7 linked regions of the Homo sapiens genome follow. The protein of the gene in region 7 interacts with the protein of the main gene of each other region in a biochemical or structural test. Each region holds a gene or a part of one and is shown on either strand. Other genes may lie near its edges.

The links.
Region 1: the proteins of FLVCR1 (region 7) and PATJ interact in a test that uses a peptide from one of them, tested with the Homo sapiens proteins (one large-scale study listed by IntAct).
Region 2: the proteins of FLVCR1 (region 7) and DLG4 interact in a test that uses a peptide from one of them, tested with the Homo sapiens proteins (one large-scale study listed by IntAct).
Region 3: the proteins of FLVCR1 (region 7) and APBA2 interact in a test that uses a peptide from one of them, tested with the Homo sapiens proteins (one large-scale study listed by IntAct).
Region 4: the proteins of FLVCR1 (region 7) and RAPGEF6 interact in a test that uses a peptide from one of them, tested with the Homo sapiens proteins (one large-scale study listed by IntAct).
Region 5: the proteins of FLVCR1 (region 7) and DLG2 interact in a test that uses a peptide from one of them, tested with the Homo sapiens proteins (one large-scale study listed by IntAct).
Region 6: the proteins of FLVCR1 (region 7) and DLG5 interact in a test that uses a peptide from one of them, tested with the Homo sapiens proteins (one large-scale study listed by IntAct).

Annotation. Positions count from the first base shown.
Region 1 is NC_000001.11:62,119,725-62,123,767, forward strand, and holds part of PATJ (inaD-like protein), read left to right. Parts: intron 1-1,456; coding exon 1,457-1,571; intron 1,572-3,296; coding exon 3,297-3,334; intron 3,335-4,043.
Region 2 is NC_000017.11:7,193,628-7,197,424, reverse strand, and holds part of DLG4 (disks large homolog 4), read left to right. Parts: intron 1-372; coding exon 373-668; intron 669-849; coding exon 850-952; intron 953-1,090; coding exon 1,091-1,205; intron 1,206-2,929; coding exon 2,930-3,106; intron 3,107-3,424; coding exon 3,425-3,461; intron 3,462-3,553; coding exon 3,554-3,581; intron 3,582-3,710; coding exon 3,711-3,758; intron 3,759-3,797. UniProt on the Homo sapiens protein: Postsynaptic scaffolding protein that plays a critical role in synaptogenesis and synaptic plasticity by providing a platform for the postsynaptic clustering of crucial synaptic proteins.
Region 3 is NC_000015.10:29,102,322-29,106,364, forward strand, and holds part of APBA2 (amyloid-beta A4 precursor protein-binding family A member 2), read left to right. Parts: intron 1-3,057; coding exon 3,058-3,237; intron 3,238-4,043. UniProt on the Homo sapiens protein: Putative function in synaptic vesicle exocytosis by binding to STXBP1, an essential component of the synaptic vesicle exocytotic machinery. May modulate processing of the amyloid-beta precursor protein (APP) and hence formation of APP-beta.
Region 4 is NC_000005.10:131,432,384-131,436,426, reverse strand, and holds part of RAPGEF6 (rap guanine nucleotide exchange factor 6), read left to right. Parts: intron 1-45; coding exon of another isoform or gene 46-476; exon of another isoform or gene 477-666; intron 667-2,768; coding exon 2,769-2,997; intron 2,998-4,043. UniProt on the Homo sapiens protein: Guanine nucleotide exchange factor (GEF) for Rap1A, Rap2A and M-Ras GTPases. Does not interact with cAMP.
Region 5 is NC_000011.10:85,616,914-85,620,956, forward strand, and holds part of DLG2 (disks large homolog 2), read right to left. Parts: intron 1-4,043. UniProt on the Homo sapiens protein: Required for perception of chronic pain through NMDA receptor signaling. Regulates surface expression of NMDA receptors in dorsal horn neurons of the spinal cord.
Region 6 is NC_000010.11:77,818,505-77,822,547, reverse strand, and holds part of DLG5 (disks large homolog 5), read left to right. Parts: intron 1-446; coding exon 447-1,466; intron 1,467-2,529; coding exon 2,530-2,653; intron 2,654-2,860; coding exon of another isoform or gene 2,861-2,943; exon of another isoform or gene 2,944-3,082; coding exon 3,083-3,227; intron 3,228-4,043. UniProt on the Homo sapiens protein: Acts as a regulator of the Hippo signaling pathway.
Region 7 is NC_000001.11:212,889,133-212,893,175, reverse strand, and holds part of FLVCR1 (choline/ethanolamine transporter FLVCR1), read right to left. Parts: intron 4,031-4,043; coding exon 3,919-4,030; intron 1-3,918.

The sequences.
Region 1 (4,043 bases), about 150 Mb from region 7:
AGGGCAGGAATTCAAGACCAGCCTGGCCAAAGAGCCTGGTGAAACCCTGTCTCTACTAAAAATACAAAAATTAGCTGGGCATAGTGGTGGGCTCCTGTAACCCCAGCTACTCAGGAGGCTGAGGCAACAGAATCACTTGAACCTGGGAGGCGGAGGTTGCAGTGAGCTGAAATTGCACCACTGCACTACAGCCTGGGTGACAGAGGGAGACTCCTCAAAAATTACAATACAATGCAATAAAGGTCTTGGCAAACACACCTTTCTGAAATTTTTTAAAGGCAAAAGTTATAATATACTGTACTTCCTCAGTTCTGATTAGTTATCTATTATAGTACCATTTACTTAAATCATATCCTTTAAGGAAAAGTATAAAAACACTCCTTTAAATGTATATAGCCACTATGAAGTATACTGAGATCTACAACTTACTTTGAAATGAATTTTTTAAAAAAAGATGAGTGATGAATAGATAAATGGCTATGTGATAAAGGAAATATAGCAAAATACTCATTGTGAAATCTAGGTGCTATTTATATGGATGTCTATTGTATAATTCTTTCAGCTTTTCTATATATTTGAAGGTTTTCATATTTTAGGAATTAAAATATTAAACAACTTTCATCATAGAGTTAAGAAAATGGACCAAATTATAATTTATGAACTGATAACAGTGATCTTAGGCTTAGCTTAAAATTTTGATGCAGAATAATTTGGTAGAAAAAAATATTCATTATTTGCAATGTTTTCGTCTACATAAGAAAGGCCCTTCACTATGTATACAGTTTTTGTTGAACAGCCACTAGCCTTAAAAGACTACACAGTATTAACCTCACATATTCATTTAAATGAATAAAGGGACAGGTAATGGAGATCTAGCAGATTGGACTAAATTATTACTGATTCTAGGAAAATCTTTGAGAAAAAAATGTTATATATCCCTAAAACAAGTCTTTTTCCCTTCAGATTTGGTGCTTTTTTCCCCACAATTGAGGGTTCTATTTTGGCAGGTTTCTGCTAATCAAGGTCTTATTATACTTGTTTTAGCAAAATACATAATACATTTTGGGTAATAAAGTTGACTGTAACCCCAAATGAAACATAGTGCCCATTAGCTGACTATATATACATAAACACTATGTGGCAACCTAGGAAAATGGTTTTGATTTTATGTGGAGCAAGAACAGCTGAAATGATTCTATGGTCTCCACCTTGGTGATTGAAACCATATACAAAAGCACACATAATGGAGAAAGCAATGGAGGAAATGTCTAAATGGGATTGGGTTGAGGTAGTAAGAGAATAGTGTGGGTGATTTTTGTTTTCTTTCCTGGCCTCCTCACGATTTTCTGTTAGATGGTTATGGTGACATCAGTAATTGGCACACTAATGGATAAGTATGCATTTAGGGGGTCAAGTCAGTGTCTGCACACAGGTGACCCCTGGGTCTTTCTTTCAGGGTAGTCAGCAGAGTGCACACAGCAGCTGTCATCCCTCCTTCGCTCCTGTCATCACTGGCCTGCAAAACCTGGTTGGCACAAAAAGAGTTTCAGATCCTTCCCAGAAAAATTCAGGTATTACACGGACACACCCAGAGCAAAACTATCCTGTTACCCAAATTAAAAAAAAAAAATGTGTTTTTTAAAAACCAGTCTTCTTTAATATAAATGTTTTTTAATTTTTTGAGCTTGGCCACATAAGCTGAGCTTTCTGAAAGGCATGTTCTGAAGGTAGGAAAGCCATAGAGATTCCTTCAGTGGTGGCCAGGCATGGTGGCTCACACCTGTAATCCCAGCACTTTGGGACGGCTGTGGCGGGCGGATCACCTGAGGTCAGGAGATCGAGACCATCCTGGCTAACCCCGTGAAACCCCGTCTCTATTAAAATACAAAAAAAAATTAGCCGGGCGTGGTGGCATACGCCTGTAGTCCCAGCTACTCAGGAGGCTGAGGCAGGAGAATTGCTTGAAACTGGCGGGGGTGGTGGAGGTTGCAGTGAGCCAAGATCGTGCCACTGCACTCCAGCCTGGGTGACAGAGCAAGACTCCGTCTCCAGAAAAAAAAAAAGAAATTCCTTCAGTGGCACAACACAAAGCACCTGAAAAACAGAAAAGCAGAAAGCTGGAGTGCATGGTAAAATAAAATTACTTACAAAGAGAAAATTAATAAATTACAGGTCACTGGAGAAAGGTCAGAAGTGTGTATACCTTCTATGGGAAAATTGGGCCAGTTAAAAGAAAAAAAAAAGTGTGTATATCCTTGGGGGCAGGGTGGGACAAGGGGTCCTTTTAAGTCTTTTGTTGAATGGAGGGTTATCTTTGATTAAGGTAGAAAAAAATGTACAATGAAACACAAATGACTCAGCCGGGCCCGGTGGCTCATGCCTGTAATCTTAGCACTTTGGGAGGCCAAGGCAGGCGGATCACCTGAGGTCAGGAGTTTGAGAGCAGCCTGGCCAACATGGAGAAACCTCGCCTGTACTAAAAATACAAAAATTAGCCGGGCATGGTGGCACATGCCTATAATCCCAGCTACTTGGGAGGCTGAGGCAGGAGAATCGCTTGAACCCAAGAGGCAGAGATGGCAGTGAGCTAAGATCGGACCACTGCACTCCAGCCTGGGCGACAGAGTGAGACTCCATCTAAAAAAAAAAAAAAAAAAAAAACCACACACACACACAAAAATGAGTCATCCTCCAAGCATTTACTCACCATGTTCCAGGCAGCTGCTGCTATATAGCCCATCCACTTTTGTCAGACCAAATGGTTATGGCCACATTGATCTCAAACAGAGAGCACTTCTTTAAAATAGAGGACACAGCAGGCCGGGCACGGTGGCTCACGCCTGTAATCCCAACACTTTGGGAGGCCGAGGCAGGTGGATCACTTGAGGTCGAGAGTTTGAGACCAGCCTGGCCAACATGGTGAAACCCCGTCTCTACTAAAAATACAAAAATTAGCCGGGCGTGGTGGCAGGCACCTGTAATCCCAGCTATTTGGAGGCAGAGGCAGAAGAATTGCTTGAATCTGGGAGGCAGAGGTTGCAGTGAGCTGAGATGGTGCCACTGCACTCCAGCCTGGGTGACAAAGCGAGACTCTGTGTCAAAAAAAAAAAAAAGAGGACATGGCCCCTGGTGACTTGGCTACCAGCTTGGATGCTGAGGAAGGGTACAATACCTGCTTGCTTTAGTGTCTTCTCTTGAAAGACCTAGAAAATGAAACCATTTTTCATGGGGCAATATTATATGCTAAATATATTATTTTTTAATATTAAAAAGTTAATTGTGTTGCTTCTTTATAGGCACAGATATGGAACCAAGGACTGTTGAGATAAACAGGGTAAGTCAGTCATTTTGCTGTATGTATTTTTCTGGTTTGTGTTGGATTTGCACTAAATGTACATTTTCCCCAATACAGTTTATTGGATTGTGAGTGTGCTCTTTCAAGTTACTGAGATAAAAATATGGTCTAAATAACATCAATAAATAGACTTAGAAAAGTACAGTAGAGCACAGAGATGACCTCTATGAATTTTTTGGCAAATCTCATCCACTATATTCTGTGCTATGTGTAAGTTTTATTTTTATTTATTTATTTTTTCAATCTTAGTCTTTTAACCTGTACATGTAAAGTTTTATAAAACAAAAATGGTATCATGTGGCACATACTAAATAAGTATTTTTTGAGAGCATATAGTATGATTTTTATCGATTTCATAGTACTCCATCTTATGAATGTGCTATAAGTTTCTTTTTTTTTTTTTTTTTTTTTTTTTTGAGACAGAGTCTTGCTCTGTCACCCAGGCTAGAGTGCACTGGTGCGATCTCGGCTCACTGCAAGCTCCACCTCCTGGGTTCATGCCATTCTCCTGCCTCAGCATCCCGAGTACCTGGGACTACAGGCGCCTGCCACCACGCCCAGCTAATTTTTTGTATTTTTAGTAGAGACGGGTTTTCACCGTGTTAGCCAGGATGGTCTCGATCTCCTGACCTCGTGATCCACCTGCCTTGGCCTCCCAAAGTGCTGGGATTACAGGCGTGAGGCACCG
Region 2 (3,797 bases), on a different chromosome or scaffold from region 7:
GCAGAGAGGTGGGGGGAAAAAAGAGGGAGAAGAATTTTATGGATTAAGAGATTCGAGTGACACAGGAACCCAGAGAAAACCCCCAAAGCGTAATATTAATGCTCCCTTTGACTTCCCCATCCCTGGCATACTGAGGACATATAACGTTCAAATCCTTTATCCCCTAGGACAACCAGCCTCTGATGTCACCTATAAATTCCTGACCCCTGATGTCACTGTGATCTGATATCCCCTTACCACCCCACCCTGGCATCTCTGGCAGAATATCTTCCCTTCCACCTAACTTTGGCTCTTCTGGCACCCTGGGGAGAAGGTTGGGTGGCGGGTGCTGTTTCCCTCCAGGCACTTTCATCTCTGCCCTGTCTTCCTCAGCTTATTCCCAGCACCTGGACAATGAGATCAGTCACAGCAGCTACCTGGGCACCGACTACCCCACAGCCATGACCCCCACTTCCCCTCGGCGCTACTCTCCAGTGGCCAAGGACCTGCTCGGGGAGGAAGACATTCCCCGAGAACCGAGGCGAATTGTGATCCACCGGGGCTCCACGGGCCTGGGCTTCAACATCGTGGGTGGCGAGGACGGTGAAGGCATCTTCATCTCCTTTATCCTGGCCGGGGGCCCTGCAGACCTCAGTGGGGAGCTGCGGAAGGGGGACCAGATCCTGTCGGTGAGGGAAGGCCTGCCCCTACCTGCACCACCCCCTCCCCACAGGGCAGAGCGCAGAGCTCTTGGGGAGGGGCCTGGATGGGCTGCAGCCGAGTCCTCTTGCGGGACCACTCCCTGCTCCACCTGGACCCAGAAGTGCTGCCTCCTGTCTCTGGTGACACAGCCTGTCGTCCTCTCTCTAGGTCAACGGTGTGGACCTCCGAAATGCCAGCCATGAGCAGGCTGCCATTGCCCTGAAGAATGCGGGTCAGACGGTCACGATCATCGCTCAGTATAAACCAGAAGGTACCAGGCCGGAAGTTCCTTGTCTTGTGAGCTGAAATGGCCCTTAGAACTCTTCCTCAGCTGATGGCTTCAGTAGGGGAGGACAGGGGTGACAGTAGGATGGGGACAGAGCTCAGAAACCTCCCTGTCCTTCCTCAGAGTACAGCCGATTCGAGGCCAAGATCCACGACCTTCGGGAACAGCTCATGAACAGCAGCCTGGGCTCAGGGACTGCGTCCCTGCGGAGCAACCCCAAAAGGGGTTTCTACATCAGGTCAGAGGCTTCCCGGGCTGGACTCCTCAGCCCCTCTGCGTTCCTGGGCACTCTGTGCCTGGCCCGGGCCTCAGCCGCTCCTCTTCTCCACCCTGCCTGCTCTAGCTCCCCACCCCAGGCCTGAGGCGCAGCCAGGGTTCATGGGCTTGGCTGCACAGGTTAACATTTGAAATACTCCCTGTCGATGGGAAAATAGCCTCTGCCCCAAGTATCCCAATTGCCTTCTAGCCCCTGGTCATCCCAGCACTTCCCCGGGACTCCCAGGCCACCCCACAATTTGGCGTCTCGAAGGTTAATGCTTGGTGAAGCAGGGTCCTCTAGGGTATTTGGAGTGTTGCCCCAGCCTTCACGTCCCTGTGGGCAGTCCCGGAGACGTGGGCCGCAGCTCTGTGGTGCCTGCCCCCGTCTCTCCAGCGGCATTTTGCTCCCCTCTTAGGGCTCGTCTCCATTGACTCTTTTTGTGGCTTAGGTTTCTGCCAAAACACACCTCTCTCCCGCCCCCGGGGGTCACCCCTCCACTTCTGTCCCTGTCTGGCCCTGTGGCTTGCATGGCCTCGTCTGCCGCTGCGCTCTGCAGATGTCTCTCGGAGGTGCTGGCCCTGGCTGACCTATTTCCAGAGGTCAAGACCTGCACTTCTGGCCATTGGCTTTCTGGCCATCTCCACTGGGATGTCCCACAGGCGTCCCACACTCAACATGTCCCACGCTGAGCTCATCATCCTGCTGTGGGCCTGGGTTCCATCTTGCTGTGCCAGCAGTTTCCCTCTTGTTGGATGGCATCACCAGCCACCCAGACACTGGCTCCCACCTGAGCCCTTGCTCTGCCCTTCCTCCCTGCTCGGGTCCGGTTGGTCCCCAAGGTTGTTCTGACTCCCAGTGACCACAGAGGTTGTGTAGTGGCTCCCAGGCGGAATGTCATCTGGTTGTCACACTTCCAGGGGGCCCGGGGTCTCCTCCCTCCTCTCCAGGCCCATTGCTTTCTTCTGTGTCTTCATTACTTCCCTGGTTCTGACCCCAGGGGTTGTGACTTACTGATAGAAATTTGATACTGGTAAGGGTAACCATTATTTGGAAACACGGGACATTTTCTTTTTCTTATGAATTTGGGCAGATTCAGGGTTACCCCTGTGACTTTATGATGTGCGTGTGTACTGCACACTGCTTTCTGTTTTTCTTTTTCTTTTTCTTTTTTTTTTTTTTTGAGACGGTGTCTCGCTCCGTTGCCCAGGCTGGAGTGCAGTGGCGTGATCTCTGCTCACTGCAAGCTCCGCCTCCTGGGTTCATGCCATTTTCCTGCCTCAGCCTCCCGAGAAGCTGGGAATACAGGCACCCGCCACCGTGCCCGGCTAATATTTTGTATTTTTAGTAGAGACGGGGTTTCACCATGGTCTCAATCTCCTGACCTTGTGATCCGCCCGCCTTGGCCTCCCAAAGTCAGCTGGGATTCCAGGTGGGAGCCACCACGCCTGGCCCAAACTGCTTTCTTGAGAGGGTCAAGTTCAAGCCCTGCCTCTGGAAACTGTGCTCAGTGTGGACTGAGTGATGGCTAATAGTTGTTATGAGTTATAGTCAGCGTTTGGTCCCCACACAGTTTTGGGTTCCTCGGCATCCATAGCTCCCATGGGAGTGCCATCTGCAGACCTCTGGGCCGGGTCTTTGGGTGACTGGGGCATCCTTCCTGGAGTCCTCAGCTGGGCTCTGACCGATAGCCACTTGCCCTCCAGGGCCCTGTTTGATTACGACAAGACCAAGGACTGCGGCTTCCTGAGCCAGGCCCTGAGCTTCCGCTTTGGGGATGTGCTGCATGTCATCGATGCTAGTGATGAGGAGTGGTGGCAGGCACGGCGGGTCCACTCTGACAGTGAGACCGACGACATTGGGTTCATCCCCAGCAAACGGCGGTGAGGCTCCTGGGCTCTGTAGCCTTCCTGCCACAGGCACTGAAGTTCCCAAGGTCCCCCGGGGTGGGCAGCCAACAGGGGATGGGTTTGCCCTCTGAACTCCTAGGGGTTTGTCTGTTGGGCCCTCCTGGGGTCCGTGGCTCCCATGAGCCTTTGGGAAGGACAACTCCTTATTGAGGAGCACAGTGTCCAGGGCTGCAGGAGAAGGGGTGTCAGCTGGCCCAGAGTATGGAGAAGGGGTTGTCAGCTGGCTCAGAGCATGGGGGTGGCAGGGGGTAGGCATTCCCCTACCCGCGTATCCCTCCATGTATCCCACAGGGTTGAGCGACGAGAGTGGTCAAGGTTAAAGGCCAAGGTAGGTGGAGGAGGGTGTGAGCCTGGGTGGAAGTGTGAGGGCTCATGGAGCTGAGCTCATAACTAACCCCGTGGCCTGCTTTTTCTTCTTAGGACTGGGGCTCCAGCTCTGGATCGCAGGGTAGGTAGGGTTAGTTCGGGAAGATGTGGGTGAGAGGAGCACTGAGTTGCTTTTGATATCCTCAAGGGGGAGACAGGGCTCCAGGTCCCCTGTTTCAGAGCCCCTTGCAGATGCCCCACCTCCCACCAGGTCGAGAAGACTCGGTTCTGAGCTACGAGACAGTGACGCAGATGGAAGGTGAGCCCTGGCCCCTGCCTTGGCCCCAGCACTTGCTGC
Region 3 (4,043 bases), on a different chromosome or scaffold from region 7:
GGGCTGAGGAAGGAGCAGCAGGGCCAAGAGGGGAGCTCAGAGAGGAACTGTCCTTCCTGGAGGCTGATCTTACTCACAGACCAGCAGGGGGCGCTGCTGGTGAGCCAGTTTTGTGGCTGTTGCCAGAGTGAAATTTTAAAATATGATCTATGGCTGGGCACGGTAGTTCATGCCTGTAATCCCAACACTTTTGGGAGGCTGAGGTGCGTGGATCACCTGAGGTCAGGAGTTCAAAACCAGCCTGGCCAACATTGCGAAACCCTAGTCTCTACTAAAGATACAAAAAAATTAGCCAAGCTTGGTGGTGCGTGCCTGTAATCCCAGCTACGTGGGAGGCTGAGGCAGGAGAATTGCTTGAACCTGGGAGGCGGAGATTGCAGTGAGCTGAGATCGTGCCATTGCACTCCAGCCTGGGTGACAAGAGTGAAACTCCGTCTCAAAAAAAAAAAAAAATCTATCCTTCAGGGGCAGTTGGCCAGGGCGTTCTTTTTCACATAAGGACTTGAGGCTGTCTCAGGGACCTGGGCAATAGGGAAGGGTCCCCATATTGTCATGATCCTGACATACAGCATGGAAACTGAAGACAGGGTTCAAACCTTTGGCTGGCGCAGTCATCTTCTTCCTAAGAACTTGGGTCCACTTGAAGTGCTTCGGCGCAATGGCAGATTTACAGGAGGGAGAGAGCATTTCAACAGCGCACTCACACATTCCTTCCACCGCTACACGGAGACCCTTCGAAACCTGGATGGGTATTTCTGTGTGACTGAGGGCCGAGGATGTGTGAGAGACCTGGCTTGGGGATGGGCCACAGGTACTGGCGGAATGAGGCCAGGAGCAGGCCCGGTGGCGAAGGGTGGCAGTCAGCTGGTGAGAGTTTCCAAGGGGCACTGAGAGCCCCCAGGTGCAGCCGATGCGGAGGGTTAAAGCCAGGGTATGCCGTATTGGGTAGATGAGGCCGCAGGGTGGTCCTGCCAGCAACAGCAGCCTCCTCTTCCCCACCTCTCCAGCGCCTGCAGGCTCTGCCCACAGCCCACTTGCAGGAGGCCGCTTGAGCCCTGAGGTGGGGCCTGGGCTGGGCTCCTGGACTCACAGCAGTGAACGCCCACAGGCTTGGCTGCGAGTTGGGGCCGGCAGGGCGACCCCTTCTCTGAAGCGCCAGCCGCAGAGAGAGCCCCCTGAACCCCACACCTCCCAGGAGGCAGCCGGTACCCGGCGTGGAGTGACGGGGAGGCGGCGGCTGGCGGCACACCAGCGGCCCAGATGACACCGGAAGGAGGCGCAGCCCCGCGGAGCCGGCTCCCCGGGCTTGGAGCTTCCGCGGGGGCGGAGGATGTCGTCCAAGGGGAGGAAGAATGGCGGTGGCCCGAGGGAGCCCAAGTGGAGTCCGAGGGCCGTGGGTGGTGGAGCCGGGCCTCCGGGGCTCCAGGGCTCTCAGGCCGTCCTTCCCAGCCAGGTGGCCTCGTCAGGCGGAGACAGAAGCAGAGGCCTGGGGGCCGCCCTCCGCTCTTCCCAAAGGCCCGACCCTCTCCTGCGCGGGCGCTGCCCCCGGCCCTCCTGCCGAGCCCCATCAGCTCGCCAACTCCGCAGGCCAGCCCGGCGGCGCCATCTGGCGGTCCCCGGGCGTCGCGCCTCCAGCTGGGTCTGTGCGCGCGGCAGAGATGCTGGGCGTGGGAACCGGCAAGTCCTGGAAACGGCTTAGGGCCCGTCAGGGAGGGCAGTTCCACGCCTGCTGGAGGGCAGGCCGCCTGCTGCGCGCTTCTAATCCGGCCCAGCTTGTCTTTCCCAATGCATACATTCATCTGCTGCTCTTACATCCTGCCACGTGGAGAGTGGGAAGGGAATTGAGGCCAAAGCCCTTGTTTTCACCTGTTTTGGGATCCTGTTGAGTAGGAGTTTGCTGGGGGCGCCCGTGCAGGACCCCCTTGAGGGCAGTTGGGGAGGCACGTGAGGAGCAGGACAGCGCATAAGGAGGGCTCACACAGCCCAGAGCCTGGCGGGAGGCCCCGCTGTGGGCTGAGGCGTCACCAAGGCCGCCAAGAGCCCCGCCGCGCTCCCAGGGCTGCACAGCTGCCAGCCTGCTTGGCGAGCTCCGGGAGCTCAGTACAGCCCTCACCTCCCACTGTCTCCTGTCTGCGCACCAGCAGGCGGCCGGCCAGGCCCTGAGTGCTGTTTCAGTGTCCAGGCCTTTGCCATGTCAGAGTCGGTGATGTCCACTGAAGCAGCTCAGCGGAAGTAGAAAGAAGTGACGTGCTTCATGGGGCCTGTGTGGAGTCCCAGGTCTCATGTCTTGCAGGCCTGGCCTGGCACAGCCACACATCCCTAGAAGAGCAGCCAGGCACACCCTCTGCCTCCAGTGGGCACTGGGTTCTGTTGCTACCGATAAATACATGCGGGGTAGACAACTAGCAGCACGATGCTCCCGGAAAACACACTGAAAGTCCATTTTCGGCATCAGATGAGTGGAAAGGAAATACAGATGGGGTCAGGTGCAGTGGCTCACACCTGCAATGCCAACAGTTTGGGAGGCCAAGGCAGGAGGATCACTTATGTCCAGGAGTTTGAGACCAGCCTGGGCAATATGGCAAGACCCCTATCTCTACAAGAAAACTTTTTTTAATTAGCTGGATGTGGTTGTGCTCACCTACATTCCCACTCCAGTCTGGGCAACAGAGCCAGACCTCATCTCGAAAGAAAAAAAAAGCAACAAAAATATGACATGTAGTAAATAATTCATTGTTGTCCCAGACTTTCTTTGAAACAGCTTTGACCTGGAGCATCTGGGCCGTGCCACAGCTTAGGCAGGGACAGTCAGGAGTAGACCCTTTGGGGTTCAGGGCAACACTGGGGTTCGCTCACGGTGGAGTGCTGGTGGGAGACAGCCTTCATCAGATGAGGGAGGGCCCCCAGTTTCTTTCTTGTTCTTCTAAGCCCGAGCAAGGGCTCCCTTGAAGGCTTATGGGTGCATCCTGCACCCAGCCCTGCCGCAGCCCCCTGCTGAGGAGGCTGCGGGGAGCCTGTGCCACGTGCCTGTCTCCAGCTGGCCTGCCCTCTGCACAGGCCCAGCTCATCGCCCAGTCTATCGGCCAGGCCTTCAGCGTGGCCTACCAGGAGTTCCTGCGAGCCAATGGCATCAACCCCGAAGACTTGAGCCAGAAGGAATACAGCGACATCATCAACACCCAGGAGATGTACAACGACGACCTCATCCACTTCTCAAACTCGGAGAACTGCAAGGAGGTAAGCCACACCCACCAGCCTCAGGGAGGCCACATTTGCCAGCTTCTGCTCCCTGAGCTCCTGCAGAGCGAGCCTTCCCGGGGTCCTCACGCACACCCTTGCCTTCCTATCAGACTCCAGTGGGGCCCGGAATGTGCACCTCGCTCCTGCCTTCCAGCTGAGCACTTGGGTGTGAAATGAGGTGTTTGTAACAAAGAAGCTGATTACAGTCAGCTTTAATGACCTCGAAAATGCGCCTTTTAATGCTGCTATTATCATCAACCAGCACTCAGCACCCAGGAGATATTTCTGAAAAGCATGTGGCATCTCTAAAGGGAGCCTGGGGGCTCTGGCAGAGGAGGCTGGAAGCCACCAGTAGCAGAGGCCTTAGCTGGTCCCAGTGGCTTCCCCCAGGGGACTTTGGAAAGTTCTTATGGGCAGAGGAGCAAATTCCCTGGGGATGGCCCATACCTGGACTGTTTGTTAAATGGCTGAATGATTGTGTCTGCTGTGGATGAGTGGATGGTCTCTGCTGCTTGTTGAATGGGTGAATGCATGATCCTGGTTTCTTGCTGAAGACATTCCAGGCAGTTTCTGAGACAGTGACCTTTGAGAGGAAATAAAAGTAGAAGGACTTTTCCAACAAGAGTGAAGGCCGGGGGCAGGATATGGGTATGGGAGCCTGAGAACATTCCTCTGGCCTCTGTGGGTGTGGAAGGAGCAGGAACCAGGACACTGGAGCCCTGCTTGGGGTGGGAAGGTCAGTGTTGGGCACGGGTGGGGTTGGGGTCAATGCCAGGCACGGGTGGGGATAGGGGGTCTGTGCT
Region 4 (4,043 bases), on a different chromosome or scaffold from region 7:
TAATTGTGATTGACCATGTCAGGGTTTTTGCATCTCTCCCTCCAGTTGGCAGTATCATATCTGATCACAGCAGCAAGATCAGTGGCCAGAGCTGCCCCGGAATAGGTGGGGCTTACTTGCAAAAGAAAATCCTTCAGATTACCAGGAGCACAGCCAAAAGAACAGACAGTACTGAGAAGGCCACTGAGGAGAATAGAGACAGGACAAGTTGTGAGAACACAACCAGAAAAAGAATGACATCCCCGTTTAGAAGACTTAGGGAAAGAATGCTTTCAAGGGAGAGACTAGTCAACAGCCAAAAAGAGGACACAGATCACAATCAAGCTACAGAAAGCTGTGAGAAAGTGAAGGATGTTGGAAGCAACATCAAAGATGAGAAAGGGAGTGCCATCTTCAATTCAAATAGCCAAGGCAACAGTAACACTTTAAACTGCTTCTATACGCGATTCAAGTCTAAAAGGAGGAAGACACTCTGATGAAGTTCCTTATTTAATTTTAGTGTTAAGTTTGTTTTCAGTTATTAATGTATACATGGCTTAAATTAAACCATTTGTCAAAGCTTAGGCAGACAACTTAGTAAAATACTATTTATAAACACTTGAAAATGCCTCATTTGTACATAAGTTATTTTACTGATGTATTGAGTTAGTAAATTTTATACTCTTGTTTTCTGTAGTTGACTTTATTTCCTACTGTTAGCTGGATCTGTGAGTGAAATATGTAGAGGAGGCTTTTTTATCTTCTACTTTTTACGTATCTTTGATTGGGGGAGAAGGGACTAGTCTAACATAGCAATATCAGAATCATCTGGGAAACTTGTTAAAAAATGCAATTACTGTGTCCCACCCCAGACTTCATAAACTTGAATTGCCAGAAATGGGATCTGGAATGTTTATTTTAATTGGCTTGCCAGGTGGTTCTTAGTATTATTATATTTGAGAAATACTGATCAAATAGACATAAGAATGAAATTATTTTTTAAACAATGAAGCAAGATTATTGTGTAGAGCAATGACTTTTTCTTTTCAAGAAGAAGGTTTTTATTTATTTTTAATTTACTTATTACATCCACTTTCTTGGTCCTCTTAAAAATTGACTAATCAGCTCATGGACATTGACAAATAGCAGTGATCCCAAGTTCAGAGATGTATGATAGACGTCAGAAGACTGGCTTGTCTTGGCTTACCCTGTTCCTGTCCACGTAGGCCAAATATAAATCACACATTTTCTAGGCCTTTTTCTCTTTGAAATAGTTAACGAAACGACTTAATAAGATTACTGTGCAACAAATTATTCCTTAAATGACTTGAGTTATATGTGAATAACTCCAAGATCCATAAACAGAGAAAGACTTGGAACTAAGGATGTTGTCATCCTCTTTCTGCATGAAGATGAGGCCCTGAGAATTCCAGTAACATACCCAAAGCCTGTAATTCTTCCTAATGACATTTCTAGGTATTGGTCCAAAGGTCACATATCTACTAAACCCTACTTTCCTCTGTGAGCAAGAAGATATTTTTTACTTCTTTGAGACCCGTCCCTTGTTGGGATTACTAGGGCATTTTCTTTTTCTTTTATTTCTAAACAAAAATTTGGTTTCTTCCAGTTATCAAAATAGATTATTATGTACATTAGCCATTCTGTTGCAGATTTGTTTTTGGGTCCTTCACCTCAGTGCGTCCCTAGAATACAGAAGAACATCTCTCTAGTTGTCTGCTGTGCAGTAAGTCACAGAACAACATAGAACATGTAGATGCTGTTTTTTTCTATAACACATTATTAAACATGTATCCACTCAGCTGTTTAATATTCTGCAAGGTTGGTGAAGAAAAAGGAAACTAAGTATGACACTAAGTTTAAACCTAAAACAATTTAAAAAACTGAAACAGGCTGGGCATGGTGGCTCATACCTGTAATCCCAGCAATTTGGTAGGCTGAGGCGGGAGGATCGCTTGAGGCCAGGAGTTGAAGACCAGCCTCGGCAACATAATGAGACCTCATTTCTGCAAAAAGTTTAAAAATAACTGGGTGTGGTGGTGCAGACCGTAGTCCCAGCTACTTGGGGCTGAGGCAAGAGGACCACTTGAGCCCAGGAGTTCGAAGCTGCAGTGAGCTATGATCGTGCCATTGCACTATAGCCTGGCAACAGAGCAGGACCCTGTGTCTAAAAAATAAAAATAATCTAAAACAGTGACTCTCAACTCAAGACAAGACTTCTTAGGTGGGATATGCAGAATATATGGGGTAAGTATATATAGTTTGATAAAGCAAAAATGTAGTTCTTTCCCTTGAGTCCTGGACTCCCACCCCTACCCTTACTTCAAGATGGTATTTGGGATTCAGATCAGGTCAAGAAATATTCATATTAATCAAAGGAAGGAGCGTTGGGTTAAAAAGAAGTTGAGAAACCCTAAAGACATGTACTTATTAATATTTGTAATCTTCTTATTTTATTAAATGATTATAGCTGTGGGAGAGCCTGAGAAAGATATACCTTTAAACTAGTTTTCTGAGTAACACTGGACTTTGACTGTCTTTTTCTTGAATGTGTAGTTGTATTGGTGTGGTGTGGATAGTAGGCAAATGGTTATGTAGGGGAATGTGTGGAGAAAATTGGCACCATTATATCTACATAGATGGAAACTAAAATTGCTTCTACTTTGTCTTCTGTTATTTTTGTGGGGTTTTTTTTTTTCATCCTTTCCCCTACTACCCCCACCATATGTTCCCTTTTTTTGTAGTTTGATCAGTGCTCTTTTCTTGTTCAGGTTACACACTTATTCCATCAGCTAAATCTGACAACTTGTCTGACTCCAGCCATAGTGAGATTTCTTCACGGTCCAGCATCGTGAGCAATTGTTCTGTTGACTCCATGTCTGCAGCTCTACAGGATGAACGGTGTTCCTCTCAGGCCCTGGCAGTCCCTGAATCCACTGGGGCATTGGAAAAGACAGAGCACGCTTCAGGGATAGGAGATCATAGTCAACATGGCCCTGGGTAAGCATCATTGTCTGTGTTCATAACACAAAACCCAAGCCAAGTGGCCACTGCAAGGAGTGCTCCCCACCTTGACCTTGGACCTCCCATGGGGTAATTGCAGAGTTATCCATAAAAGAATATGTGGGCCAAGCACATATTCTCTATTCTGAATATGTAAATAAGCACTATGTTGAAAGATGTATGGGTGTTCATTTTTAAAGTGTTACTAAATTCAAGTAACTTTTTATCATTATGTATCTTTCCAGTCAGAACTCAAAGTGCATCTGCTACTTATATAGGGGAGATAATTTTTGAAATTCTGGCTATAGGTTAATCAAAAAGGTTGTGTTTTGGAAAGTGCCTCGAGTGCTGTGCACATTGTAGACAGGTTGGGAGAGTAGGACTAGCCCTTGATCTCTGTCCTCTGAAAGTGTAATTTGGGGAGTAAGAATAATCACCTAGCAAAGGTTAATTAAAAAAAAAAATCAACTCTAAATTTCTATTTAGAATCAAGCAACGTGGAAATCTTTGAGAAAGTTTATTCTAACTGATAAATATTGTGAAATCTGGTCTACTTTAATATGAAAAATTTAAGATAAATTATTACCACATTTATAAAGATTTCTAAACTAGGATCTCTACACCAGAGGTCAGCAAATGTTTTCTATAAAAGTTACATAGTAAACATTTTAGACTTCACAGGCCATAAGGCCTCTGTCACAACTACTCTGCTATTACACCAGAATAGCCATAGACAACACATAAACAAATGGCATGACTGTGTCCCAGTAAAACTTTTTTTTTTTTTTAAGGCGGAGTCTCGCTCTGTGAGACAGAGTGTCACTCTTGTTGCCCAGGCTGGAGTGCACTGGCGCGATCTCGGCTCACTGCAAGCTCCGCCTCCTGGGTTCACGCTGTTCTCCTGCCTCAGCCTCCCGAGTAGCTGGGACTACAGGCGCCCACCACCACGCCCGGCTAATTTTTTGTATTTTTAGTAGAGACAGGGTTTCACCATGTTAGCCAGGATGGTCTCGATCTCCTGACCTCGTGATCCGCCCGCCTCG
Region 5 (4,043 bases), on a different chromosome or scaffold from region 7:
AAGAGCTATCTAGACACAACAACTCATATGTCAGAAGTAAGCTGTTTTATATAGATGATCAACAACCAGAAGACACTCCCATTCCAGGCAGAACCCCACCTTAACCCCAGGGAAGTGGGGAAAACTTCAAAAAGGATAAGTTATTTTGTCTGTTACTCAGTTACTAAGAGTAAAGGTGAATTACAGAAAATAAATGGATACTTCTAACATACCTAAATTTACAGACCAAGTCCAGCTCACGGATTACCTGATCCTGTCCCTTCTTTTAGTAGCCAAATCTTCTGACTACTGTTCTAGGTTTTTTCCACCATGTCACTGCTATCGATGATGATGATAACACAGGATGTGATTATATAGTTCAAGGCCAAAAAACAAGAAAAATAAATAATGATCTGAAACAGCCTCTTGCCATTTCCCACATTGTCTGGTAAACTTCTATTCATCTTCTGTATCTCATCTTAAATATTACATCTTCCCTAGTGGGATTGAGTGTTCCTTGTCTGTTTTCTTGACAAAGAGCGTTAACCTCACCACACAGCATTGAAATTGCCTGTTTTTGCATCTGTCTTCCTAATATATTTTAAGATTCATACAGGCAGAGATTGAATATCATTTGCTACTTCAAACATGCATCTGGCACTATGCCTGGCACATAGCAGGCACTCATAATACACCTTTGTTGAATGGATAAATGATTGAATAAATAAATGAAAGTAGAGTCATTGCCTTAAATATATACACCAGTTTACACCATATATACACCAGTTTACCTTTTAAAAGAATTTTAGCTTGTTTATTACCTATGAGAGATGTTTAAATAGAACAGAACTTAATAGGTTTATTCCAAGTATTACCATGCTTTTAATGATAAAGATGTCACAGTCCTTCAAAATGATAAGCCCCTGATAGAAGCTTCAAAATTGTATCCTAAATTAGGGCCTCAGTGGCTAGCAAAATGGTGTTACCAGAAGAAATGGGTTACAAAAATCTTACCCATAATCTTTGAAAGTTTAAATTTAATAATTCATTTTCACAGGATTTTCTACTTTATTATACTATACCATTCCTCTTGATCTTAAATCCTAAAATAAAGGAGGTCAGGAGAATCGTTTCATAATGAAGGTGATTTGGCCATAATTCTTGAAATAGCTTTGAAAACTTACTAAAAATTGAACCCATGCGGAAAGCTTATTAGTTGGAATTCAGAATGACTAACTGGACAGAAGAGACTGGATAAAACTCATGATCCTTTGCTGACAAAGCAACCTACATTGAGGATATAGAAATACTTGTGTCTTGACTGCCATAAATTCCTGGGCAAGAATTGTAGCTGGAGAACACATTCCCTTATCCCAATCAAAAAAAAAATCTCTCCCTTATACTAAAAAATATTTTGTAATCACTGACATGGTAACATAGTATTAAGAAATAAGCATATAAGGAGAATATATATTTAAGAAAGTATAGTATTCGTATAGTTCAGTAAATGTATTTTACAGAACAGTGAGAAATTTACTTATTGACAAAGGCATGAATGAACAGAATGCCTTAATCCAACATTTTAAAAACCCAATGTTTATCCCAGGCAAATTAACACAGAAACAGAAAACAAAATACCGCATGTTCTTACAAGTGGGAACTAAGAATTGGGTATACATGGACATAAAGACAGGAACAATAGACACTACGCAAGGGACTAGTGGGGCAAGGGCTAAAAAACCACCTATTGAGTACTATGCTCAATACCTAGGTGACAGAATCATTCATATCCAAAACCTCAGCATCACACAATATACTCATGTAACAAATCAGCACATGTACTCACTGAATCTAAGAAAAAGTTGAAGTTTTTTAAAAATAAATAAGTAAAATCCAATGTTTTGTGCATACCTCACTGACTAGATTCTTCTACCCACAAAAGTAAACAATAATAGGCCTAAGGGAGAAATCAAATATTCTATCATAAATAAAAACACTTGAGCAGATTTCCAAAAACCCAGAAGTTCACACATTTTCTAGTATCAAGTCATTAGCATATGCTTTGTACTCTCCCAATAGATATGTAAAATAAAATCAATTAACAGATCATTTTATCTCTACGTCTTCCTCACTAAGTTGCTTCATAGCAAACTCCTAATCAGTAGTTAAACACAAAAAGTATTCTTCTATTTCTCATTCTGGAATTCATTCTATTTATGCCTCCTGGATTAATTAATATTTTACAATATCAAGAGTCTATAGCTTATCCAAGGTCAAAATTGTCCCTACGGGGAATTTCTTTTAAAATAAAAAAGATATGGGATACCCAGGCTGGAGTTCAGTGGCACAATCACAGCTCACTGCAGTCTCAAACTCCTGGGCTCAGGCAATCCTCCAGTCTCAGCCTCCCAAGTAACTGGGACTATAGGCACATGCCAACAAGCCCAGCTAATTTTTTTAATTGGGGAATTTTAAATTAAAAAAAAAAACTTTAGTAAATTGTCTATTTTACTTTGACTTACAGAAAATGCAAAAGTTTGAAAACTGTGTTTTCCCATCTTTCTCTAGGATGATTCAGTGCTTAATTCTTTTGAGTTTTATGGCTGTGAAGAGATTAAAAAAAAAACTTGAAGTTTTGGAAAACAGAAAAAACATGTGCAGCCATATGCAGTGGCTCATGCCTGTAATCCCAGCACTTTCAGAGGTGGAGGCAGATGAATCACCTGAGGTCAGGAGTTTGAGGTCAGCCTGCCCAACATGGTGAAATCCCCTCTCTTCCAAAAATGAAAAAATTAGCCAGGCACAGTGGCAGGCGCCTGTAATCCCAGCTACTCGGCAGGCTGAGCCAGGAGAATCGCCTGAACCCAGGAGGTGGAGGTTGCAGTGAACCGAGATTGCGCAACTGCACTCCAGCCTGGGCAACAGAGCAAAACTCCGTCTCAAAAAAAAAAAGACAAGCTCTCCATATATTACTGGTATGGCAAACATGAAAATTCAAATACAAATTTGGTAAAATGCTTGCAAAAGGAATAAAATAACCACACAAGGCCACTCAATGAAGTCAGGTACAGGCATAGCTCATTTTATTGCACTTTGCTTTACTGCACTTTGCAGACAACACGTTTTTCACAAATTAAGTTTGTGACAACCCTGTGTCAAACAAGTCTATCACTGGCAATTTTCCACAGGATATATTCACTTCATGTCTCTGCGTCACATTTTGGTAATTCTCACAATATTTCAAACTTTTTCATTAGTCTTTTATTTGTTACAGTGATCTGTAATCAGTGATCTTTGATGTTCATTGTAATTGTTTTGGGGCGCCACAAATCATACCCACATAAGACAGCAAACTTAATCTGTAAATGTTGTGTGTTATCTGACTCCTCTACCAACTGGTCATTGCCCCATCTCTCTCCCTCTCCTCAGGTCCCCCTATTCCTGGAGACACAACAATATTAAAGTTAGGCCAATTAATAACTCTACCATGGCCTCTCAGTGTTCAAGTGAAAGGAAACGTTACACATTTCTCACACTCAAAGCTAGAAAATGATTAAGCTTAGTGAGGAAGTTATGTTGAAAGCTGAGATAAGCCAAAAGCTAGGCAGCCCTCTTGCACCAAATAGCCAAGTTGTGAATGCAAAGGAAAAACTCTTGAAGGAAATTAAAAGGGCCACTTCAGTGAACACACGAATAATAAGAGAGACACGCTTACTGTTGATATAGGGAAAGTTTTAGTGATCTGAACAGAAGATCAAACCAGCTGTAATTCCCCTCAAACCAAAGTCTAATCCAGAGCAAGGCCCTAACTCTCTTCAATTCTATATAGGCTGAGAGAGGTGAGGAAGCCACAGAAGAAAGCTGGAAGCCAGCAAAGGTTGGTTCATGAGGTGAAAGGAAAGAAGTCATCTTTACAACATAAAAGTGCAAGGTGAAGCAGCAAGTGCTGATGAAGAAGCTACAGCAAGTTATCAAGAAGATCTAGCTGAGATAATTGATGAAAATGGCTAAACAACAGATTTTCAATTCAGACAAAATAGCCTTACATCAGAAGAAAATGCTAG
Region 6 (4,043 bases), on a different chromosome or scaffold from region 7:
CTCAGCCTCCCAAGTAGCTGGGACTACAGGTGCATGCCACCGTGCCTGGCTTATTTTTGTAATTTTTGTATAGATGGGGTTTCACCATATCGGTCAGGCTGGTCTCGAACTCCTGACCTCGTGACCCGCCTGCCTCAGCCTACCAAAGCGCTGGGATTACAGGCATGAGCCACTGTGCCCGGCCCAGATAATTTCAGAAAGTGTTCAAAGTTAAGAAAACTTTGACTCTTCTTTGAGTTCAGAGTGACCAGAGCCATGAGAAAACTTATCCATTAGGGAGAAGCATATGTGTTCATGTGTGTGTGCATCTCTGTCTATCTGTCTCTTTTTTAAGGGGCAGGTGGCCCATTCCTGACCATTGCTTTACCTCTGGGGATGGTTTTCAGTGGCAGCTCCAAGTCCTGCCATCTCACTCTCTCTCTCACTCCTCTGCAATCCCTGCCTAGGTATTCCCTCAGAGCTCCTCGTGGAGTGGCCAGAACATTTTTGAAAATATCAAAGACTCTGATAAGATGCTGAGTTTTCGAGCCCATGGCCCGGAGGTCCAGGCTCATAACAAACGGAACTTGATACAGCACAATAACTCCACGCAGACAGACATCTTCTACACGGACAGGCTGGAAGACAGGAAGGAGCCAGGCCCCCCAGGAGGCAGCAGCTCCTTTCTGCATAAGCCATTCCCTGGGGGACCCTTGCAGGTCTGCCCCCAGGCCTGTCCCAGTGCCTCTGAGCGTAGCCTGAGCTCCTTCCGCTCAGATGCCTCTGGGGACCGTGGCTTTGGGCTGGTGGACGTGCGTGGCCGGCGGCCACTGCTGCCCTTTGAGACCGAGGTGGGCCCCTGTGGGGTTGGGGAGGCCTCCCTGGACAAGGCAGACTCTGAAGGCTCCAACAGCGGCGGGACCTGGCCCAAGGCCATGCTCAGCTCCACGGCAGTGCCTGAGAAGCTCTCTGTTTATAAAAAGCCAAAGCAAAGAAAGTCCATCTTTGACCCTAACACTTTCAAACGCCCCCAGACACCCCCCAAAATAGACTACCTGCTTCCAGGTCCTGGGCCTGCTCACTCTCCCCAGCCCTCCAAGAGGGCGGGGCCTCTGACACCCCCAAAACCTCCCAGAAGGAGCGACTCCATTAAGTTCCAGCACAGGCTGGAGACTAGCTCCGAGTCAGAAGCCACTCTGGTGGGCAGCTCCCCATCCACTAGTCCCCCGAGCGCCCTGCCCCCTGACGTGGACCCCGGGGAGCCCATGCACGCATCACCCCCTCGCAAGGCCAGGGTCCGCATTGCTTCCAGCTACTACCCTGAAGGAGATGGGGACTCCTCCCACCTGCCGGCCAAGAAATCCTGTGATGAGGACCTCACCTCCCAGAAGGTGGATGAGCTGGGGCAGAAGCGTCGCCGGCCAAAATCTGCTCCCAGTTTTCGGCCGAAGCTTGCTCCAGTAGTGATTCCTGCTCAGTTCCTGGAGGTATAGCTGAGCCCCAGGGTGTGGGGAGGGGAGGCCTAGAGAGGGGCAGTTGGCCGAAGGAGGGCTGCTAAGTGGCCCTGCACCAGTGTCCCAGGCCCCTGTTTAGCCTGGTGCCTTTGCCTTTGCTGTTGGACTCAAGTGGGAAGTGGCCCAGCTAGGAGGTAGGTAAGTGGCGTGGAAGTGCATGGTAGTGGGAGTGTGACACAAGAGGGGAACACTTTATTGGGCATAGCATTTGGTTTGCTTTTTTAATAAGAAGCTTTTGAACTTACACAATAAAACCTAGGGCATAGACTTGCCTTGAAGGGCTAGGGAGATGAGGTGGCACGTGTGAGGCTGAGTGGGCAGCGGGACGGCCTGATTGCGTGTGCTGTCATAGTTTCCAGAAGGGTGAGATTGCTGGGGACTGTGGAAAGCATCTCAGGCACCAGTCCACACTGCTCACTGGGGACAAAGAGCTTCGCACAGCCCTCCACATCGGGCAGAGTTGTACGTGCCTGATGCACTTGTGCATTCTCACCTTTTACGTGATCTCTGTGAAAGATTCATTCTCTGTGGTTTTCTTCTGAAGTAAAGCTGCTTCCTTGAAGATGTGTAAGGCAACATGAATGGGCAGCGTTCCCATTCATGTCCCTTCCTGTGCCCCAGTGGGAGGAGCTGGTTCCTGGGGGGCAGAAACTGGCTTGCAGAGCTGCTCAAGCGTTCCACTGTTTGGTTTTTTTTTTTTTTTTCCCCTAAGATGGAGTCTCACTCTGTCACCCAGGCTGGAGTACAGTGGTGCAGTCTTGGCTCACTGCAACTTCTGCCTCCCGAGTTCAAGCGATTCTCCTGCCTCAGCCTCCCAAGTAGCTGGGATTACAGGCACCCACTACCATGCCCAGCTAATTTTTGTATTTTTGGTAGAGACGGGATTTCGCCATGTTGGCCAGGGTGGTCTTGAACTCCTGACCTTAGGTGATCTGCCCGCCTCGGCCTCCCAGAGTGCTGGGATTATAGGTGTGAGCCACTGCGCCTGGCCACACTCCACTCTTTCTAGCAGACACTCTTGCCCTTGCATCTGCAGGAACAGAAGTGTGTCCCGGCCAGTGGAGAACTCTCCCCGGAGCTCCAGGAGTGGGCACCTTACTCGCCTGGGCATTCCAGCCGGCACAGCAACCCCCCGCTATACCCTAGCAGGCCGTCTGTGGGTGAGTCAGCCAGCCAGGGGCTGGGGCTGAGGGTCGGTGTAAACTCGGGATGCCTAGTCTCCAGGGAGAGGGGAGGCAGCATTTCAGAGAGCTGCCATGTGTTTTCAGCCCTGAGGTCCAGAGAACTGGGAAATGCTGTCCTGTCTGGGATGGTTTGTCTTATAGCCATGACATGTCTTAGCTTGTCAACATGCTTTCTCCCCATAGCAACCTGGGAAATAGGAAGCATGAAAGAGACTTCCCCCCTTTTTACAAATGGAGACAGGCCAGGAGCCACAGCCACATTGTGAATTGGTGGTTAAAACTCATCTCCCAAGTCCTTTTCCCAAAAGACTGCGGCTGCGTCCTGGGATACAGGGGAAAGGCTTGTGTAAGTCCTGGGCTGGCTGGGTCCTTTGGGGCGTCTTTTCTCACCAAGCCCATTTCTAGGCACTGTTCCCCGGAGTTTGACCCCCAGCACCACTGTGAGCTCCATCCTGCGGAACCCCATCTACACTGTGCGCAGTCACAGGGTCGGCCCCTGCAGCTCTCCACCTGCGGCCCGAGATGCTGGCCCCCAGGGTTTGCATCCCAGGTATGTGAAGGCACCCTACGCTTCTCTGTACTCCAGCTGCCCAAGCCTGCCTGGACATGGAACCATGAGTGCATAAAGAGGCTCATTGGTGGAGAAGCTTCCTTGCCTGCCTGGGAGGGGACTGGCTAGAGCAGCACAGGGAAAGGGAGCCTTAGGGCTGCTTTCTGAATTCATCAGCACAAGGTTTCAAAAGGTACTGGAAGGACACGATAGTGATAGCAGCTGATGTTTGAGTGCTTATGTCCCAGCCACTGTGCTCAGACCTTTATGAATATCATTTCACCGAATCAACAGCAACCTCATGGGCTAAGTCCTATTACTGTTTCTGTCTTGAAGATGAGGAAACTGGTACTTCATAAGAGGGTGGGCTGGCTCCAAGCCACTCTTATTCATTCATTTGACAGATATTTTTTGAGCACCTACTACATGCCTTGGTCTATCCTAATTATAAGAGGATACATTGCTGAACTAAACAAATTAGCTTCTAGCTCATGTCGTGTGGTTTTTCAAATGTGGGAGGCAGACAAAAAAAAAAAATGAACGAAGTGATATCAGATGGTGCCAAGAGGCTATGAAGGCAGTCAAACAGGGTGACAGGCTGGGCTGTAACTTGGAAGAGGGTGGCAAGTTAGAGTGGGTGGTCAGGAAGGGCCCTGTGGCAGAGGGGATGCTGCTGTGACCAGAAGGATGAAAGAGGCCAGCTGCACAAGACCTGGGCTGGAGCCTCCAGGGAGAAGGGCCATCGGTGCCAAGGCCAGGGCACCCAGGCACAGTCGTGGGAGCTTGTCAAAGGGGCAGCGAGTCAAGAAGAGGTTT
Region 7 (4,043 bases):
GCTGAGGCAGGAGAATGGCCTGAACCCGGGAGGCAGAGCTTGCTGTGAGCCGAGATCACGCCACTGCACTCCAGCCTGGGCAACACAGCAACATTCCGGCACCCCCCCCCAAAAAAAAAGAAGCAACCCTTCATTTCTTCAGGTTTTACCATAAGATGCAGCAATTCAGTTACCTCTTCATATTCCACTTCTAATTCCAGTTCTCTTGTTATTCCCACCACATCTGCAGCTATTTCCTCCACTGAAGTCTTGAACACCTCAAAATCATCCATGAGAATGGGAATTAACTTCCTCCAAACTCCTGTTAATGTTGATAGTTTGACCTCCTCCCATGAATCAAGAATGTTCTTAATGGCATCTAGGATGGTGCATCCTTTCCAGAAAGTTCTCAATTTACTTTGCTCAGATCCAAGAGAGGAATAATTATTTCTGGCAGCTACAGCCTTTTGAAGTGTATTTCTTAAAGAATAAGACTTGAAAGTTGAAATTACTCCTTGATCCACGGGCTGCAGAAGGGATGCTGTGTTTCCAGACATGAAAGCAACATTGATCTCCTCGTACATCTTCATCAGAGCTCTTGGGTAAACAGGTGAATTGGTCAATGAGCAGTAGTATTTTGAAAGGAATGTTTTTCTCAGTAGCAGGCTTCAACAATGGGTTTAAAATATTCAGCAAACCATGCTACTAACAGATGTACTATCAACTACGGGGTTCAGGTTCATTGTTCCATTGTTAGAGCTTAGGCAGAGAAAATTTGGCCTAATTCTTAAGGGCCCTAGGATTTTCAGAATGGTCAACAAGCATTAGTTTCAATGTGAAGTCACCAGCTGCATCAACCCCTCACAAGAGAATGAGCTTGTCCTTTGAAGCCAGACATTGATTCCTCCTCTCTAGCTATGGCAGTCCTAGATGGCATCTTCTTCCAGTATAAGCCTGTTTCATCTACATGGAAAATTTGTGGTTTATTGTAGCCACCTTCATCAATCATCTTAGCTAGATCTTCTGGATAACCTACTTCAGCATCTACATCAGCACTTGCTGCTTCACCTTGCACTTTTATGTTATGAAGACAACTTCTTTCCTTACCTCATGAACTGACCTCTGCTAGTTTCCAGCTTTTCTTCCGCAACTTTCTCACCTCTTTCAACGTTCACAGAATTGGACAGTTAGGGCCTTGCTCTAGATTAGGCTTTGGCTTACGGCGATGTTGTGGCTGGTATGATCTTCTAACAAGACCACTCAAACTTTCTCCATATCAATAGGCTGTTTTATCATTTGTGTTCACTGGAGTAGCATTCTTAATTTCCCTTAAGAATTTTTCCTTTGCATTAGCAACTTGGCTAATTGTTTGGTGCAAAAGGACTAGCTTTTGGCCTATCTGGGCTTTTGACATGACTTGTTCACTAAGCTTAATCATTTTTAGCTTCTGATTTAAGAGGAGAGATTTACTACTCTTCCTTTTGCTTAAACACCTGGAGGCCACTGTAGGGGTAATAATTTGGGGGTATTAATCAGGGCCCTGATTTCAATATTGTTGTGCCTCAGGGAATACCATTTGAGATGGTAAAAGCATCAATGTAAAACTAATTTTAAAGATCTATTTTCACTTCTTAATTTTCTAGACTTGATTTGTTTGAATTAGTATTCATGAATCTCTTGTAAAAGTAATTTGAAGGAGGATTACAAAACTGCTCCCTTCTTTGGTATAACAATAATACTGTTTTTTTTTTTGAGACGGAGTCTCACTTTGTCACCCAGGCTGGAGTGGTGGTGTGATCTTCACCACTCACTGCAACCTCCGCCTCCCGGATTCAAGCAATTCTTCTGCCTCAGCCTCCCAGATTCAAGCAATTCTTCTGCCTCAGCCTCCCAAGTAGCTGAGATTACAGGTGTGTGCCCATAAAACTGGCTAAAGTTTTTTGTATTTTTAGTAGAGACACGGTTTCACTATGTTGGTCAGGCTGGTCTTGAACTCCTGACATCAAATGATCCACCTGTATCAGCCTCCCAAAGTGCTAGGAATACAAGTATGAGCCACCACGTCCAGCCAATAGTAATAATCTTAGATAAGATATAGTACTTGCCTAGGAATTAAGAACCAACATGGAATTACTTATGAAAGAACAATAGTTAAAGCAGTTAATGTATTACATATTTCACAGTTTTGTATGTTTTATTTTACTAACTGGACAGGGGGAAAAACTCCCTGTGATAAGATGTTTTTCTTTGAGGAAACAGAGTGCATTCACTTTCTTTTAGCTTCGTGAATGAATGCTCAGGTTCCTATCATTCATACAATTGAGTGAGCGACCTTAGGTAGTTGTGTATATCCAAAATGTCTATCACTGGTGAGATTTCATATTGAAGGTTTCACAAAGAATGATCAGGTATTCCACAAACAGTAGAAGAAATTCTGATTCACATCCTTCTGATAGATTCTCCAACTAAGTTATAACCAGATCCTCCAACTAAGTTATAACCAGATCAACGAAGCACAACCTCCCTTGGTATCTGCGGGGGATTGATTCCAAGACCCCACCTCAGATACCAAAATCCACGAATGCTCAAGGCCTTTATATGAAATGGTGTAGTATAAGCTTGTTCAACCTGTGGTCTGCAGCCCATATGTGGCCCAGGACAGTTTTGAATGTGGCCTAACACAAACTCACAAATTTTTAAAAAACATTATGAGATTTTTTGCAATTTTTTTTTTTTAGCTCATTAGCTATCATTAGTATTAGAGTATTTCATGTGTGGCCCAAGATATTTCTTGTTCCAATGTGGTCCAGAGAAGCCAAAAGATTGGACGCCCCTGGGAAGTATTTACATATAACGTACACACATCCTCCTATGTACTTAAACCATCTCTAGATTACTAATACCTAATACAATGTAAATAGCTGTTATACTATAATGTTTAGGGAATGATGACATTTTAAAAGTATGCACCTGGAAAAAGTTCTGCTTCCAAATCTATTGTACACCCATGTGCATGGGCAAACTATGGATAAAAATTCTCTGACATTCTCTTTCTCTGGAGATTGAGCACTATTTTCTTTCCTGCCCATGTCTATGATGACTATACCTAAGAAGTATAAGCACTAGCTAAGGATTCCACATACTATTTCCACCACTACCACTTGACTGCTTACCATCTCTACCACATTATAACAATAGTAACACATGTTAGGCACGTCCCAGGTGCCAGACACTAGGAACTTTTCATGAACCATTTCAATTAATCCTCACAGTAACCCTATAAAGCAGGCTTTAACACTCTATTATATAAATAAGGAAAGGAGGATTTGAGAGGTTAAGCAACGGGTCTAAAGTCACACTCCCACTGAGCAACAGAATCGGAATTTGAGGCCAGGTCTTCCCAACTCCAGGTCTTTACTACTCTTTTTTTTTTTTTTTTTTGAGACAGAGTCTCGCTGTTGCCCAAGCTAGAGTGCACTCGTGTGATCTTGGCTCACTGCAACCTCTGTCTCCTGGGTTCAAGCAATTTTCCTGCCTCAGCCTCCCAAGTAGCTGGGGCTACACGTGTGCGCCACCACAACTGGCTAATTTTAGTAGAGACGGGGTTTCGCCATGTTGGCTAGGCTGGTCTCAAACTCCTCACCTCAAGTAATCTGCCCGCCTCTGCCTCCCAAAGTGCTGGGATTACAGGCATGAGCCAACACACCCAGCCTTTACTACTCTTATTATAACAGTTTTGCTTGCTATGCAGAGTAACTGTATTGAATTTGAAATCTGCAAAATGAAGTAAGAGATTCATGTCTTTAGAAGAAAACAAATAATGTCCTGCTTTTTATCTCATTTTTTTCCCCTTGAGTTCTGTCAAGCTATTGAGAAGCAATATATATGAAAATTAACACATGACACAAGTCCTTTTGCCAGGCAAACGCCCTAATTTACCTGTTAATATGATGCCTATAAACATCCAGACACAGAGAAAAATGTTCCCTGCCTTAGGACCATAGTCTGATGTGAGCTTTCCTTGAGCCAATGTGAACAAAATTCCAAATATCTAAAATACAATA